Linked DNA regions of Homo sapiens: region 2 is linked to region 1. Evidence: fine-mapped expression QTL. Tissue or cell type: lung. Region 1 holds a variant in brackets; the other region holds the start of a gene. All regions are shown on one strand. Distances are between the middles of the regions.

Evidence for each region. PIP is the estimated chance that this variant, and not a neighbour inherited with it, causes the effect.
Region 2: GEN1 starts here. The variant in region 1 is fine-mapped to the expression of GEN1 in lung (TOPMed, PIP above 0.99).

The regions. Positions count from the first base shown.
Region 1 is chr2:17,682,321-17,690,320 of GRCh38, reverse strand. SMC6 (structural maintenance of chromosomes 6) reads left to right here. Exons shown (of 28, transcript NM_001142286.2): 24 at 6,558-6,683. Among named protein-coding and RNA genes, the nearest start is that of SMC6, 67 kb to the left of the region's middle. The variant C/T (reference allele first, on the strand shown) is at 4,237.
Region 2 is chr2:17,749,165-17,757,310 of GRCh38, reverse strand. GEN1 (GEN1 Holliday junction 5' flap endonuclease) reads right to left here and starts at 3,173. Exons shown (of 14, transcript NM_001130009.3): 1 at 2,966-3,173. It overlaps SMC6 (structural maintenance of chromosomes 6), which reads left to right and starts at 3,501. Exons shown (of 28, transcript NM_001142286.2): 1 at 3,501-3,685; 2 at 4,247-4,333. RefSeq lists silencers at 3,386-3,525, 3,666-4,025.

The sequences.
Region 1 (8,000 bases):
CACCTGGCCACAGGCAGTTGTTTAAAAACCATACTGTTTTAGTTATTGTGGCTTTATGATGTTCTTTCTGATTTTCATTGTTAATTTATTCAGTGAATTTAGTAACCTGAGCAAAAGCTATTTATTTTTCTGTGCAAAATCAATTTTAATTCCATGGTCTGCTAGTCACTCACATATTACATTTCTCTATTAGTTATAAAGTAAAATAATTGCAGTAATGATTTAAGAAGCAACTGGAGCTCAAACGAAATTTTAATCCTAGTGGATTTTCCCATTTGGAATTAATAATGTATTGAATAGAGAAATTGCCTAGATCCAATTGCCATAGACATGCATCCATTATTGTAAATACAGCTGGCTCTCTGTATCCACTGATTCCATATCCACAGGTTCAACCAACCACAGATTGAAAAGACTGGGGGAAAAAACTCAAAAACAACAAAAAAAGAACACAATAGTAAAAACTAATACAAATTTTTTAAAAAATACAGAATACAGTGTAACAACTATTTACATAGCATTTACATTGTCTTAGGTATTATAAGTAATCTCTAGAGATGATTTAAAGTATACAGGAAGATGTATATAGGTTATATGCAAATACTATGACATTTATAAAAGGGATTCATGGATTTTGGTATCTGCCCAGGGGGCCCTGGATCTAGTTCCTTTGCAGATACTGAGGGACAGCTCTATCAAAAATCATAAAACTTCAAACATTATTGAAAGGCCATATATATTTAGCATGTATACATGCACACATATACATACACTCACATTACTTTACTTTTTTTTCTGTACCATTCAAAAGTAGGTTTCATAAATCATGACCCTTTACCTCTTAGTACTTCAATATATTCCCTAAGAATAAGAGTATTATCTTACATAACCACAATACTGTTATAAAGTACAGGAAACTTAACATTGATACCTGTAGTCCAGTTCCAATGTTGACGGTTCTCCACGTCTTTCCTACGATATCAGATGCAGTCTAGGGTCGTGTATTTCATTTGTCATGCTCTTTTACAGAATGCTCTTTGTTTTGATTTTATACGATATTTTTTCTTATAATTAGGTTCATATGTGTTCTTGGCCAGGATGCTACAGAAATGATGATGTATCGTTTTCTGGGTATCACATCCAGAGGCACATAATCTGTCTATCTATTTCTCTCTCTCTCTCTTACTGATGATGTTAATTTTGATCACCCAGTAAAGGTGTTAATTGGTTTTTCCATTATATGCTTTACTATTTTTTCCCTTGCAACTAATAAACATTCTGCAGACAGACACTTTGCAACCCTGCCAGTATCCTGCTTTTCATCATATTTTCATCCCTAGATTTATCCTCTGCTAATGATTCTTACCTGAACGAATCTTTACTATACTGCTTGCAAAATGAGGAGTTTTCAATTCTGTTGCATCCTTCATATTTATCAGTCACTTGTAAGGAAGAGCCTATGTTATCTCCAATTTATCTATTTGTTAATTTATTTACTTGCCTTTGCAATATGGACTTTGCAATTATTGCCAAATCCCCTCTGCAAGATATGTTTACAATTATTTTTTTTCTGGTATTTAGTAAATTTACTGTGTTGTAAAGTTACTTGGATTAGGTTTTTCTCTCTACTGTTACAGTTATTAATTGACTTGATTTGGAAATGTTTCTATTTGCATTCAGTTTCCACAGATTTCTGTTTTACTCAATGGACTATAGTCATTTACGGTCCATGTTTATCTTAAGATTTTCTTTTTCTGAGACAGGGTCTCGCTCTGTTGTCCAGGCTGGAGTTCAGTGGCAGGATCTCGGCTCACTGCAACCTCTCCCTCCCGGGCTCAAGTGATCCTCCCACCTCAGCCTCCCAAAGTGCTGGGATTACAGGCATGAGCCACTGCATGGCCTATTTTAAGATTTAAATTGTTCCATCTTTGGTCAAATGGAGGCTCTTCAAGCTGGTTCCTGCATTTTCTTAACATGCTTTCCTTCTTGTTTTTTTTTTTTTTTTAATAGCATTTTTAAACTTTGTGACATAACAAAATATTTCAAGCTCATTCTATACCTGACCCAGCCTTGGAGTCAGTAACTTCTCCAAAGAGCCCTGGTTCCTTTTTTTAAGGAATGATACCTAAAAACAAAATTTGGATTTTAGGGATGCTAATTGTTGCTGGGGTAGCATTTCTTCCAGTACCTTTCAGTTAACAGAATTAAAAACGTGAGTTTGTATTGGTGTCTCCAGTGGCAGTCCAGTCCCACAAAGGGCTTTTTAACCTTAACCTATTCCTTGTTTCTGTCTTTTTTTCCTCCACAGGAGGAATTCTGGCTCTCAACAACGTTAATATTTACTCAGTTCCACAATATATATCTACAGAAAGAAAATTATTGAAAAACATTCAAGATGTGTTTGCAATTATTTTTTCTCTACTATTTAGTAAATTTACTCTGTTCTAAAGTTATTTGGATTAGGTTTTTCTTTATTGTTGTAGTTATTAATTGACTTGATTTAGAAATGCTTTTATTTGTTTTTGTTTACATTCAATTTTTCTCTGATCCTTGTTTATTTAATTTCTCTTTGAGGGGAATATGTAGAAATTAACATGGTTTCACAAGTCAAAGCCATAAACAAAAGTATATTCAGGGAAATGTTCTCCCTCTTTCATCCCTTCCACACCATTTCCCCTGGCCCACTCCCTATAGGCAACAGTTCTTTTTTATTTTCTATCTTTCATGTTTTTTATTTGTTTGTGAAAGTAAGCAGGTTCATATGTGTTTTCTTTTTTCCATGGTTCCTCTACTTTTTTTCACAAAAGGTAGTCAACCATCTTGCTTTTGTCATTCACCAATGTACCTGAAGATCACTCCATATCAGTTCATTGAGATCTTCCTCATTCTTTTTACAGCTTCATTGTACTCTGTTTTGTGAGTCTGCACACACACATTGATCTGTACCATAGTTTATTCAGTCATTCTGTGTGTGTGCATTTTGGTTATTTCCAGTATTTTGCAGTTACAGATAATGCTGCAGTGAATTATCTTGCACATGCACGCACACATGTATATGTGTGCTATTGGATACACTTGTGGCATCATATAAGTGCTCGAATCTGTATCTTCATAGTAATTTTCCAGAAGTGACTTTACTAGTTTGAAGCATAAATGTGTAAGTGGTTTTGTTAGATATTTTCAAACCTTCTCTATAGGGTGTGTATCATTTTTGCATTTGCGCCAACATTGTACAGGTTGAGTATTCCTTATCCAAAATGCCTAGAACCAGAAGTATTTTGGATTTTGGAATATTGGCATATAGATGAGATATCTTGGAGATAGGACCCAAATCTAAACACAAAAATTCATTTATGTTTTATATACACCTTATACACATAGCCTGAAGGTAATTTTATGCAATTTTTAAATAATTTTGTTCACGGAACAAAGTTTGTATACATTGAATCATCAGAAAGTGAAGACGTTACTATCTTAGCCATCCATGTAAACAATCTGTGGTTGTTTGACATCACTGTCATTCCTGATTCTGAATTTATATAAGCAATCGTTTTCTTACACTAATTCACACATAAGTACTTAGTAAAAAATGTAACATACATATCCATGTATGTATGTCATACATGTACAGAAAAGATACATCACAGCTGAAGGGGGCTAGGAAGGTCTCTTTTCCCTTGGGGGCACTGAATAAATAAACTGCATTGTGTACCTGCGTTTTTACTGCAACCTGTCCCATGAGGTCAGGTGTGGAATTTTTCACTTTTGGCATCATATCAATGCTCGAAATGTTTCAGATTTTGAAGTATTTTGAATTTCAGATTTTTGCCTTGCTTTTTGGGACGGAGTCTCACTCTGTTGCCCATGCTGGAGAGCTGCGGCACAATCTTGGCTCACTGCAACCTCTGCCTCCTGGATTCAAGCAATTCTCCTGCCTCACCCTCCCAAGAAGCTGGGATTACCAGCACCTGCCACCATGCCCAGCTAATTTTTGTATTTTTAGTAGAGACAGGGTTTTACCATGTTGGCCAGGGTGGTCTCGAACTCTTGACCTCAAGTGATCCTCCTGCCTTTGCCTCCCAAAGTGCTGGGATTATAGGCAGCAAAGTGAGATACCGTACCTGGCCAAATTTCAAATTTTTGGATTAGGAATGCTCAACCTGTATGAGAAAGGATACTTTTTCCCCAACTTTGCCAACAAAGTGTATAGTGTATAGTTACGCTTTGTAATTTGTG[C/T]CTGTCTGATGGCTGAGAAATTGTATATTAATGTAACTTTAATTACATTCCATCATTATGAATAAAACTCAACATTTTTTCATATATTTAAGAATCATTTTTATACCTTGTGAATTATCTATTCTTTTTTAAAATTATTTTTCTATGGTGTTTTTCCCCTCAAAGTTTAAGTTTTTAACATATATATATATAGATATATATGGAGTATTAGCCAAATATTGCAGATTTTTCTCTTGATTTCTTTGTTGAATTTGCATTTATATTTTTTGCCATGAAAAGATTATTTTTATTTAGTTCAATTTGTCATTCTTTGATTACATCTGGATTTTGGGTCATAGTTAAAATGCTTTTCTCTACATCTAGGTTATGGAGGTATTCACCTATGATTTTTTTTTCTTATTCCTTTTTCCACATGTTCTAATTACCTATGATTTTTTAGTACTTCTATATGTCCATTTTTGTATATCTGTGATTTATTTGGAGTTTATTTTTATGTATGGTGTGAGGAATAGATTTTGTCTTTTTCCACATGACTATGCAGCCATTTGAAAAGTTGTTTGTTCTTTTTTGCTTGAGAATGGTGTGTATGAATATTTTCTATGTTTTACAAGTTGATAAGAATTTGTCTTTAGCTTTTATGTTTGAAGGATAGTTTCACCTAATATAAAATCCTTAGCTCATACTTTTTCTCCTGATGAGCATCTTGTTTATGTTGGTGTTTGTCTATTATGTCCTGTAACTTATCCAGAATGTTAGAATTCAGTGATTTTTTTCATTGCTAAACATTGCTTTTTCAATATTTAGATTTAAGTCTTTTAGTTCTTAAAAAATTTGTTGAATTTTACTTTAAAATATTTTGTTTCATTGTTTTGGTTTTTTTTTGAGGTCTTTAGTTATGTTGAATATCTATATCTTCTCTAGTTATCATTTTGTCTAACCATTTTGTCTTTTTTTTTCATTTTGCTTGATTTTCTCATTTATGTTCTTTATTTCCATCTATGTGTTTTCCACATTTCTCTTTTCTCCTATGCATCTTCTCATTTTGTCTTCATATCTGTGTGTGTTCTTTTTAGGAGGAGGTTCTAGCCCTCCTACCTTCCCGTCTGTGGGTTCTCTTGCTTTACCTACTCCTCTTGTTTGATTATTACCTTCTTTTGTGTATCTATTCTTTCAGTTCTTTTATGTCTGCTTTGAGGTATTCCTTCCTGGTAGCACTTGTCTAATGTTCGTGTTTGTTTGTTTGTTTGTTTTTATTCTTTAAGACAGGCTCTTGCTCTGTCACCCAGGCTGGAGTGCAGTGGTACAATCATGGCTCACTGCAGCCTTGAACTTCTGGGTTCAAGTGATCCTGTGCCTCACCCTCCTGAGTAGCTGGGACCACAGGCACATGCCACCATACCTGGCTAATTTTTATTTTATTATTTGTAGAAACAGAATCTTGCTATATTGTCCAAGCTGGTCTCTAATTCCTGGACTCAAACGATCCTCTCATCTTGGCCTCCCAAAGTGCTGGGATTATAGGTGTGAGCCAATACAACTGGCCTCTTGTTTTGTTTTAATTTATGGTGTTCAATTATAATTTTCATCTGCTTTGTGGCAACACTGTTCTAATAAGTTTTCTTTGTCTGTAGGAGAGTTTTGCTGTTCTTTTTCATATTTTCCCCATAAATATCTGGATGCTGTGCCAGCGCGTTTTTTGTTACTTATTTTTTTAATTAGTTGAATTTTCCTGGGCCAGTTATTTGAAGGAGAATGGGAAGGGTAGCTGTGGGAGCCTCGACCAGGGTTGCCTTTCATGCTAATTCAGTTATAGGCTTGCCACAGTAATAGGCTGTTGCCTTTTGTAATAGCACTCTGAGTAGCCATGCCATCTCTGCCTCTTTGATCTTATCTTGTTTAGGACAGGGGAGGGTGGATTCTAATGCTGGCTTGAGTTCTTTTTTTCTTTTATTGGCATCTGTCACTGAAGGAAACCTTTCTTCCAGTGTGACCCCTTCCCTTTTTGAAGGTGTGTATTTGCTAGTATTCTCTAAGATCTGCCACCTCTAGGCCGTACCAGGGCATTTGTTCACACACTGTCTCTGCCTCCTCTAGGGCTTGGACCTTGTTCCTTCCCTGTCAGGATAGCACTTTCTTATTCCGTACCACCCTTTCATTCTGGGAGTGTAATTTGCCTGGAAATTTATGAAATTGACTGCTACTAGGCCCCCTTAGTACTCTCTGCCCCTCCCTGTTCTTCCCAGTTAAATCTGTTTGAGATTCTACTGTTATGTTTTTTACGTGTGGTGTATTTTTTACGTAATATTTTGTTTATATAATAGGCAGTACCAAGAAGCAAGAGAGACCTATCTTGATCTGGATAGTAAAGTGAGGACTTTAAAAAAGTTTATTAAATTACTGGGAGAAATCATGGAGCACAGATTCAAGACATATCAACAATTTAGAAGGTAAGTACATTGAAAAATGTTACTATATATTATACATTTTTGTGTTTCTCTGTTTTCATATTATTTATATAATTCTGTTATAGCAGAGACTATTAATGCTTGCTTTGTTATTCAGTTCTTAGGATTCTCTAATTTAATCAGACAATTCCGAATCTGAAGGGCTCTTTATGGTGAGCTTATCCAACTTTTCCACTCTGTTAGATATTCTTTATGCTTAATAGGTCTTTTATGCTTAAATAGGTCCTTTGAAAGGGAACTCATTGGTTCTAAAATAGCTTATTTTACCCTTGACTATTGCATGTTTTTAATGGATACAAGCATTTGGTAGGAACTATAAAGGTAATACCTCAGTTGATTTACCATAATCTACTAGAATGACGTAGCTCCATGAATGTAGAAACTCTGTTTTGTTTACTGCTGTATCTCTAGTTTCTATAATCATACCTGATACATACCAATATACATTGGTTGGATAAATGAATACAGAATTAGGGAAACTGGATATTAACATATCCAGAGATGTACAGACTCACAGAGATAGATTGACTCCAACTGATCACAAGTGACAGAAATAAACAGAGGATAATTGATAGGGAGGGACGGTCCTTTAATATACATGAATCCGAGACAGCCCTAGTCCTTCCATTTGCCTCTGTTTTTCTCCAGGCAAATTCCCTCAGTAATACACTTTTTAAAACTGTCTTTACACCAAAAATTCTACCATCTTAAGCTTGTACAAATTAAAAAAAAAAAAGGTACCTAGCTCTTATATTCCTTAGTGAAACTACAGGTTAGTTTTTGAAATTCCTGTTTCAGTTTTACAGGCATATTAGTAGGGCTTGAATTAAATAGGACCCATTTTTACCCTTTTGAGGCTACTTTTAGCCTTGTTAGATGAGATTAGAGCAGCCGTTGGTTGTGGGCTAATTTTTTCCTACCTCTGAGGCAGTGCTATTTTGAGTACTCTACCGATACCTTGTAAATCACAAGGTTTTCACTCTGGCCAATAAGAACATGAACTATTCCTGGTCGTGTGTGAGCTGTCGGAATTACTTCTATTTCCTTTGGATATTTCTTTTCCCAGCCTCAAATGGTGTCCTCACACCTATGCACTGACCAGTACTCAGCTCAAGACTGGAGCAGAACCCTTTATAGATCCTCTGGAGTTTATTTTGCCTCCCCAGATTCCCAGCTCCAGCTCCTGAAACAAGAGCAACAGCTCCACTTTGATTTCTACTCCTTTGTCCTCTGTCGGTGAAGAGCAGTGTGGGGCATTGGTGGGGTTCAATTTGTTTCCTAGAACTAGCAGGCAGTTCT
Region 2 (8,146 bases), 67 kb before region 1:
GTAAAGCTGTTAATTAAATATATTATTAACAGGGGGCAGCCATGCCTAAAAAAAAAAAAAAAAAGTCCAGCACTGATTCGATTATTGGAAACCCCTAAGCAAGATAAAGAGGGCTTTTAACCCCATAAATAATATCTTTAATATCACATGATTACTACAGTTAGAATTTAGTTTTTATTATTTCATTTCTTTTGTCGGAAACAAACCTGGTTTAAAGAATGATTAACCATGGTTAGTTCTGAAAGAGGAAAATTATGTGAAATGTACATTTTATTAGAAAGAACATCATAATATTTTAAGAACGCAATTAACTCCAAATCTCTGTTTCCATCATCAATTGTTTTCCATTCCTTATCACATGTTCTTTGCACCAGCTGTTCCGCGGAAGTGATATTAAGAAGCAATGGTTAAGACTGTAAAAGCATAAAACATTCCAAAAAAGGACAGAATGCAATAGCTTCTAAGATATTAAAGTACAACTACACTGAAAGATAGAACAGATGGTTCTTGCATGAGGTCATAATCAATGTGATGAGGTTATTTGAAAATGGCTCAGCATTAAGTAAAATTTAAAAATACTACACTAGCCGGGCATGGTAGCTCATGCCTATAATCCTGGCTCTTTGGGAGGTCGAGGCAGGCGGATCACCTGAGGCCAGGAGTTTGAGAACAGCCTGGCAAAATGGTGAGACCCCATTTCTATAAAAATAAATAATAAAAATTAAAAATACTACACCAAGAACTATGTATAATTTCATCTTGCTTTTTAGTTTTTTTTACTATGGTAAAATTTTAAATTTTTTTGGTGTGGGATTTGGTGAGTTCCCACTCAAATCTTTTATAATGAATAAGTATATTGATGTCAATCTGTTCATACAATCAACATATATATATCAAAAGAAGTCTAACATCTTCATAATTTTTTAAGAATTAGCTGTCACACAAGTCTACTTACATGAATCAATGATGTAAGAACAACACATAGCAAATAACTTTATAAACCTATTAATGGCTTAAATTGATTTAGCTTACTTATTTGAATCAACAAAGTCAGAACACATAGCAAACCACTTCATAAGCAATGGACTTCAGATAGGAAGCCTAGGATTTGGGTTTTGAATATACCACTGATTAGGTGTATGACCTTGGGAAGACATTTAACCGTTCTACAAAATGACAGGTATTAAACCAGATGCATTACAAGATTCTAATATCTGTAATCTAGTATTTAATATTTGAATTGCATGACCAACTGGTAGCATGGAATAAAAAAAAATCACTCTATTTCAGAAAGTATTGCTTGGTATAATAGAAAGAACATAAATTTCCATCTTAAAGGACTTAAGAATCCACTTCCAGTTAAAACAAAAACAAGTCCTTTGATGTAACCATATGGTGCCCATAAATCAATTTAAGTTCCTAAAACTTCCTTAAAAGCTAATAAGCTTTTATTGGTTAATTATAAAACTGAATGAGGTGAGAAAAACACAGAACCTTGTTAATTTCACTAATGAATCAAATTTAAAGAACATAAAGAGGTCAGGGGCTTAACTGATGCAAAAATACACACTTTATTAAAGCAAGTTTTGCAATTTAGTTCAGCTTTAAGAAAAACATTAGAAAATTTACTTCGGAAAAGCAGAAAATGCTTAAATTTCCCAATTTCCATTTAGATGAGTATATATTCATATAAAGACTGGTAAATGGTGAAAACTATTTCAATGCAAGATTATATTTTAAGGGATTTACCACATAATCTCAGTAACTAATGCTGTTCTTTAAAATTATTTTTTCAATTTTATTTTCATATGAATTTAGCCTAAACGTTGAGGCATACTTCACGTTTATCAATAAATACTTATTAAATGTCTACTATTTAACAGGAAAGCTTTATAGGTGCTGGAGATACAATAATGGAAGATCAAGCCCTGCATTTAAAGACCTTAGTAGGGTAAGTGAGACTGCAGATAAAAAGGGCTTAAGAGGTAAGAAAGCAAGCTATAGTTGTATTTAGGAAAAAAGGTCCCCCACTTAGGAATCAAGGAACGGTTCCTGAAGCAAGTGACATGTAAGTAGGGACCTCCCAACCGTGTTTCCCATTGGTTACAACAAGGCCAGATGTTTTGGTCTATTTTGACTATGTCATATTTTTCGTTGATCCATGGCAAGGGCCACAGTAGGAATATAATATATATGTGATTACTTTTAGAAATAAAAAGTGACTTTGATGTAAAGAATTCCATTACCGGAGGCCAGAATTTCAACATCAATTTATTTGGAGGTGGAGTGAGGTGGCAGTCAATGCATTATTTTCCCCACACAGAAGAGAAGATTTTGGAGTATGAAAAGTAGGTTACTTGTTAGGTCAGCATATTCATGGGAAGGGTTGTGTAAAGACTGAAGCGGGAGTGTGGGGTTGAGAAGGGCGCTGAAACCTAAGCCAAGGAAGTTAAGACTTCATTACTTCTGACGTTTATTTAGGGGGTTTACACTCTAGGTTACCGTGGGGGAAAGACTGATTGTAAATAACTACAATACCTTAAAGTAATTACTATAACAGAACTATATCCGAAATACAAGGTTAACACGGAAAAGGGAACACCCAACTGTGCCTATGGGGACCAGGGAGGGCTCTCCCGGGATGGCTTTGAGCGAGGCGTGGGAATTATCCCCATCGCATGCCCGGGGGAAGCACAGCGGGACCCAGCAGCTTCGGCCAAGCGCAAGCGGCCGGAGAACGCGCAGCTTTCCCGAGGCGGGGTGACGCAGGGCCCTCGCGAGTGGAAAACAGGGGCCAAGTCGCGGCCTGGCGGCTCGGTTCGGACTTCCTACTTTATTCAAAGGGAGTCATTGAAGGCGTTTTCGGAGGAGCAGCGAACAAAGAGCTCGTCCGTAAGCCAGATGGTCAAAGGAATCAGTGGGAGGACCCGGGCGGCGCCGTCTCTCCACGTCCCGCGGGACTTACCCGGACAACCCTTCCTCCTTGGCTCTGGAAGAAGCCCCTTCGTCATTTACCAGTTTGGCCTGAATCCTAACTACTGTGCCTCCAAATTTCTGAATTTTCTCAAAAGGAAAAAAAAAAAGGAAAGTCCTCTTTCTTTACCCAAGCAAAGACTAGCTCCCCGGGCTCAACCGCCAGGCCCAGGAGCACCAGGAAGCGTTTCGAATCCAGCGCCGGGCCCGCGCGGCCCCGCCTCTTCCGGGAAGTGACTGACCCCTTTCCCCCAATGGGGCCCGCTCGGCTTTCCCTTGCCGGCTCCCAGCCGGCCTAGCGGACGCATGCGTAGACCAGCTGCCGGGGGCGCTCAATTATCTTTCCCTTTTACTTAGGCAAATCACTCACCTCCCCCGAGTCCGGTCACTGCGGAGCCGCCCGTGCCTACCAGCTTCCCCCACCCGCTAAGGGGCACTTCCGGCCTCTCAGACTCCGGCGGCGCGAAACCCCGCAACTGCGCAGGCGCGGGCGGAGCCCGAAGGGAGGGAGGGCGGGGCGCAGGCGCGGTTAGTACCGCGGTGGGCGCCGGGGCTCCCGGGAATCTACCTTCTCCTGCGGCCGGCACGCGGTTCCCAGGGGGCCAGCGGCGGTCAGCCGAGGTCGAGACGCCCGCAGGGTGGCCTTAGCGGCCGGTCGTACCACGGCAGCCCCGCCGATCAGGTTCCTTTGGGAGACTTCGACTTGTTGGCGGTAGGGTGAAGGCGCGCGCTGTCGCTTTCCCTTGCTCCGGGGTTCATCCTCCGCCCGCTGCCCCCTTGGCTGGCGACCCCCAGCCACCCGGGAGAGGCAGGGTCAGCTGAGCTGCGGCGGTGTTCATGGTCGTCCTTGCGGGCCCGGGCGGGAGATGTCCGTTCCTCGGGCGGGTCGGGCGGCCGGCGGCACCTTCGCGCGCTCTCCGAGGCGGCACCGGTCTCCTGAGCCGCGGGAAACCTGGCGTCTGCTCCGGGCCGTCCCCTCCCAGGCGGCCGTCCCCTCCCAGGCGGCCGTCCCCAGACTCTCCCGGGCTGTGGCGAATAACTGTAAAGCGGGGAGAGGTCTGGGGAAAGCTGGGGTAGGGAGTGGCTCTTAGCATGAGTCTGATGATATCTCGCAGGCGGCAACTGGTGTGTTTAAAGGGTGTATGCAAAGATCACTGAAATCGGATTTGTCATTAAAGCCCAGTTTTACGAAAATGCAAATTGTATTACCTAGAAAAATTAACATGTGTTCAAAGGTTTACTGATGGCATTTCTCTGCCCTCATTTCTTACAGAAATGAACCGGAGAAGAATCCCAATTGGGAATTGCGGAAAACAGGACTCTAGGGTAGAGAAAGGTTGTAGAACCAATAGGGTTTGAGGTAATACTGTGAAAATTCTTAGAGCAATCATTTGGTGTTTGAGCCCTCAAGACAGAAGTTTTGTGAGCGCTTATTACTCTGCATATGTCACGAGTAGTAGATTAAAAGCCAGTGTTTTAAAGGCAAACTTCTCAGTAATATATATTCAAAGGAAAAAAGAAAAACCCAAATCTCCTGACTTTTATATGGTTGCAGTGTGATCTTTTAACATGTACAATAGTATATACAGTGGCATGCAGTTTGTTCCATGGGTGTGTGGGTAGAGAGGGAACATATTAGAACTTCTATTTAGATTTATTTCATTTGATTTCTACGTGAAACATAGGGTATTAATTTTATGTTGGAACATGTATTTCAAATTTCTTTTGCTTAATGGGTGCAAGTACAAAACGTTTGGAGGCCACTAGTATATTGCCTAAAAGCGTGTATTTATATCACAAAAAGCCAGAATTGTGTGACTCTGAGCAGGTTGGTACCACCTCTTTAAGTTTCAGTTCTTCTTATGCAAGTTGGAAGAAATAATACAGTTATCAGTGCATCCTCTGTATCCGTGGACTCAATCAAGGGACTGAAAATATTTCAGAGGAAAAAAAGTGGATGGTTGCACAGACTTTTTTTTGTTCTTGTCATTATTCCCTAAACAGTACAGTATAACAACTATTCACATAGCATTTGCATTGTGTTAGGTTATATAAGTAATCTAGAGATAACTTTTAAGTATGTGGGGAGGTTATATGCAAATATGACACCATTTCATATAAGGGACTTGAGCATCTGTGGATTTTGGTATCTGAGTGAGAGAGAGGGGCTGTCATTTTGGAACCAATTCTTAGGGATTGACTGTACCTAGCTGACAGGATTCTTAAATATGTGGACACAGAGAGGAAGAGAAAGTTATGTAGTTATATATCGACATCTGTCTGCAATCCGTATAAACCAGTTAGTATTGAGCCTGGCAAAAAGTACACAAGTCATGTTAAAGGTATTACAGTGAAAAACAAGTTTTATTCCCCAAAGGTTTATTTTACTGAGTGTATTTTACTGAATCTGTAGAATTTTATGTAAAACCTACCTAAATCTTGACTGTCATTTTTAGACCAAAGTTAGGAAAAATAATTAAAGCTGTACTTGGCTTACTTTTAGGAATTAGTAAGTAACTCAAAATTTTACCGTGATAGCTTGCATTATATTTAAGACACAATTAAATGCCATAGTTCTTTATACACAACGATAAGTCCAGCTGACTGAGGGTCAAGCGTAGTTGCTTAGGTTAATGTTAGCATTTTTGATTCACTATTTAAACAAGTTAACATCTTTTCTCTCTGAGCATGCTTTTCTTGGTCACCAAATTCAAACTACTTCCAGTAGCTTCCTTAGCTCCACCCACAAATCTTTCTCCATTGCAGAGTATCCTTTACTACTGACTGGCCTCTATCTCAAAATACCTTAGGAGCACTTGAAACTCAGTGTTTTCTTTCTTTCTTTTTTTTCCTCTTTTTTTTTTTTTTTTGTTTGAGACAGAGTTTTACTCTTGTCGCCGAGGTTGGAGTGCAGTGGTGCAATCCTGCCTCCCGGGTTCAAGCGATTCTCCTGCCTCAGCCTCCGGAGTAGCTGGGATTACAGGCATGCACCACCACACTTGGCTAATTTTGTATTTTTAGTAGAGATGGGGTTTCACCACGTTGGGCTGGCTGGTCTTGAGCGCCTTACCTCAAGTGATCCATCCATCTCGGCCTCCCAAAGTGCTGGGATGACAAGGCGTGAGCTACTGAGCCCAGCCCAAACTCAGTGTTTTCAAATAAAATAAATTTCATTCTCCCTACTTGCCAAACCTGTTCCATGAACTTATAATGGCATTTAGTATTAAGTGTGAAGATGAAACACAAAATGAAGTTTTATAAAGCACACCCAAAGTTTTGATTGACTTTAATAGTAACATTAGAGAATCTTTTTTTTTTTTTTTTTTTTTTTTGAGACAGCTGTTCACTCTTGTTGTCCAGGCTGGAGGGCAGTGACATGATTTCGGCTCACTGCAACCTCTGCCTCTCAGGTTCAAGTGATTCTCCTGCCTCAACCTCCTGAGTAGCTGGGATTACAGGCATGCGCCACCAAGCCCAGCTAATTTTTTTTTGTATTTTTAGTAGAGATGGGGTTTCACCATGTTGGCCAGGCTGGTCTCGAACTCCTGACCTCAGGTGATCCGCCTGCCTTGGCCTTCCAAAGTACTGAGATTGCAGGCATGAGCCACCCGCCCAGCCAATAATAGAATCTTTTTTTTAAGTTTAATGAAGGATAGACGAGATGAAGGACAGATTAATAGCCAATTTCACTCTCTATGAATAATTAACTGTCAAACTTCAGTTTATGCCAGTAGGAACCTGGGCGTTAAAGAGGTTTAACTGGGTTTTGACAAACCTGGATTTGGATCTGAGCTCTGCTATGTTAGAGCTATAGAAGCCTTTGTATGTTAGAACTAAGTTGTAGCTACATAAATTCAAGTCATTTACTTGTGCCTCAGTCTCTCCTTTTGTAAAAATAAGGGCAATATTTATCTCATAAAGATGTTGGGGATCAAAGGAAATAGAAAGTGTTCATCTCAAAAGCTAAGTATGTAGTTATTCAGCAGATGTTAATTCTACTCACCCATTTGTACTCACCAATTCTACTAATTCAGTCTTTTAAATCTCTTGTTTTATCTCTTCCCTTTGTCCCTGATATTACCACTGCTTTTGTTTAGCAACTCATCTCTTCTGCTACTATTCTTACTTTCTGTTTCATCTATCTTCTATATTGAGCCACAGGATGTTTTCAGTACAGAAATCTAAGTGTTCAGATTTTATTAACTGAAATGCTGTGCTTTATACTTCCCGGTTTTGCTGATCCTGAAATTTTAGATGGGTGGACTTAATGAATAAGTCTCATATAATTTCGTGATATATTCCAAGCAGTGTACTTAATTAAGCACATTCAAAATGAAGTTGTTTACCATAGAATAAATGTCTGTTGTGATAGGCAGAGTAGAATTGAGGATGTGGTAAACACAGGCCAGGGCAGATTCAGAAGTAGTAGTAATTTGCCTTTTTAAAAAAATGATAACACTTTTTTATTAAATTCTAATTCTGTTATGTGTGTCACTACTCTTAGTTCCTAATTTGGTATTAATAGGAAATATGAATTATTATATACTTAATAAAATTTAGAATTCTGTTAAAATGCATGATCTCTATCAAATTTCCTATGCATCTACATGCAATAATGAACTCTTGGTTATTAATTTTTTTTTTCTTTTTGAGACGGAGTATCGCTCTGTCACCCAGGCTGGAGTGCAGTGGCACAGTCTCGGCTCACTGCAACCTCCGCCTCCTGGGTTTAAGCCATTCTTCTGCCTCAGCCTCCTGAGTAGCTGGGACTATAGGCGCGCGCCACCACGCCTGACTAATTTTTGTATTTTTAGTAGAGACGGGGTTTCACCATATTGGCCAGTCTGGTCTCAAACTCCTGACCTCGTGATCCGCCTGCCTTGGCCTCCCAAAGTGCTGGGATTACAGGCGTGAACCACCGCGCCCGGCCATTAATTTTTCTTCTTGAACTTATTATTTTATTGATAATCTTCATTGTTCCTGCTTGTATCCTGTAAGGGAGAAATGAGGTGTTCTTTAATTCTGTTTTTTTTAAATTATAAATAAGTAAAGAAATATTAAAAACTATGACGAGCTTTATGGATAAATTGAAAATCCCAGAGGAGGCTTTTTTCTCCTTTTTTTATTCCAGCATAATTAAAATATTTTTCTTTGCATCTGTAAATATGTTTCT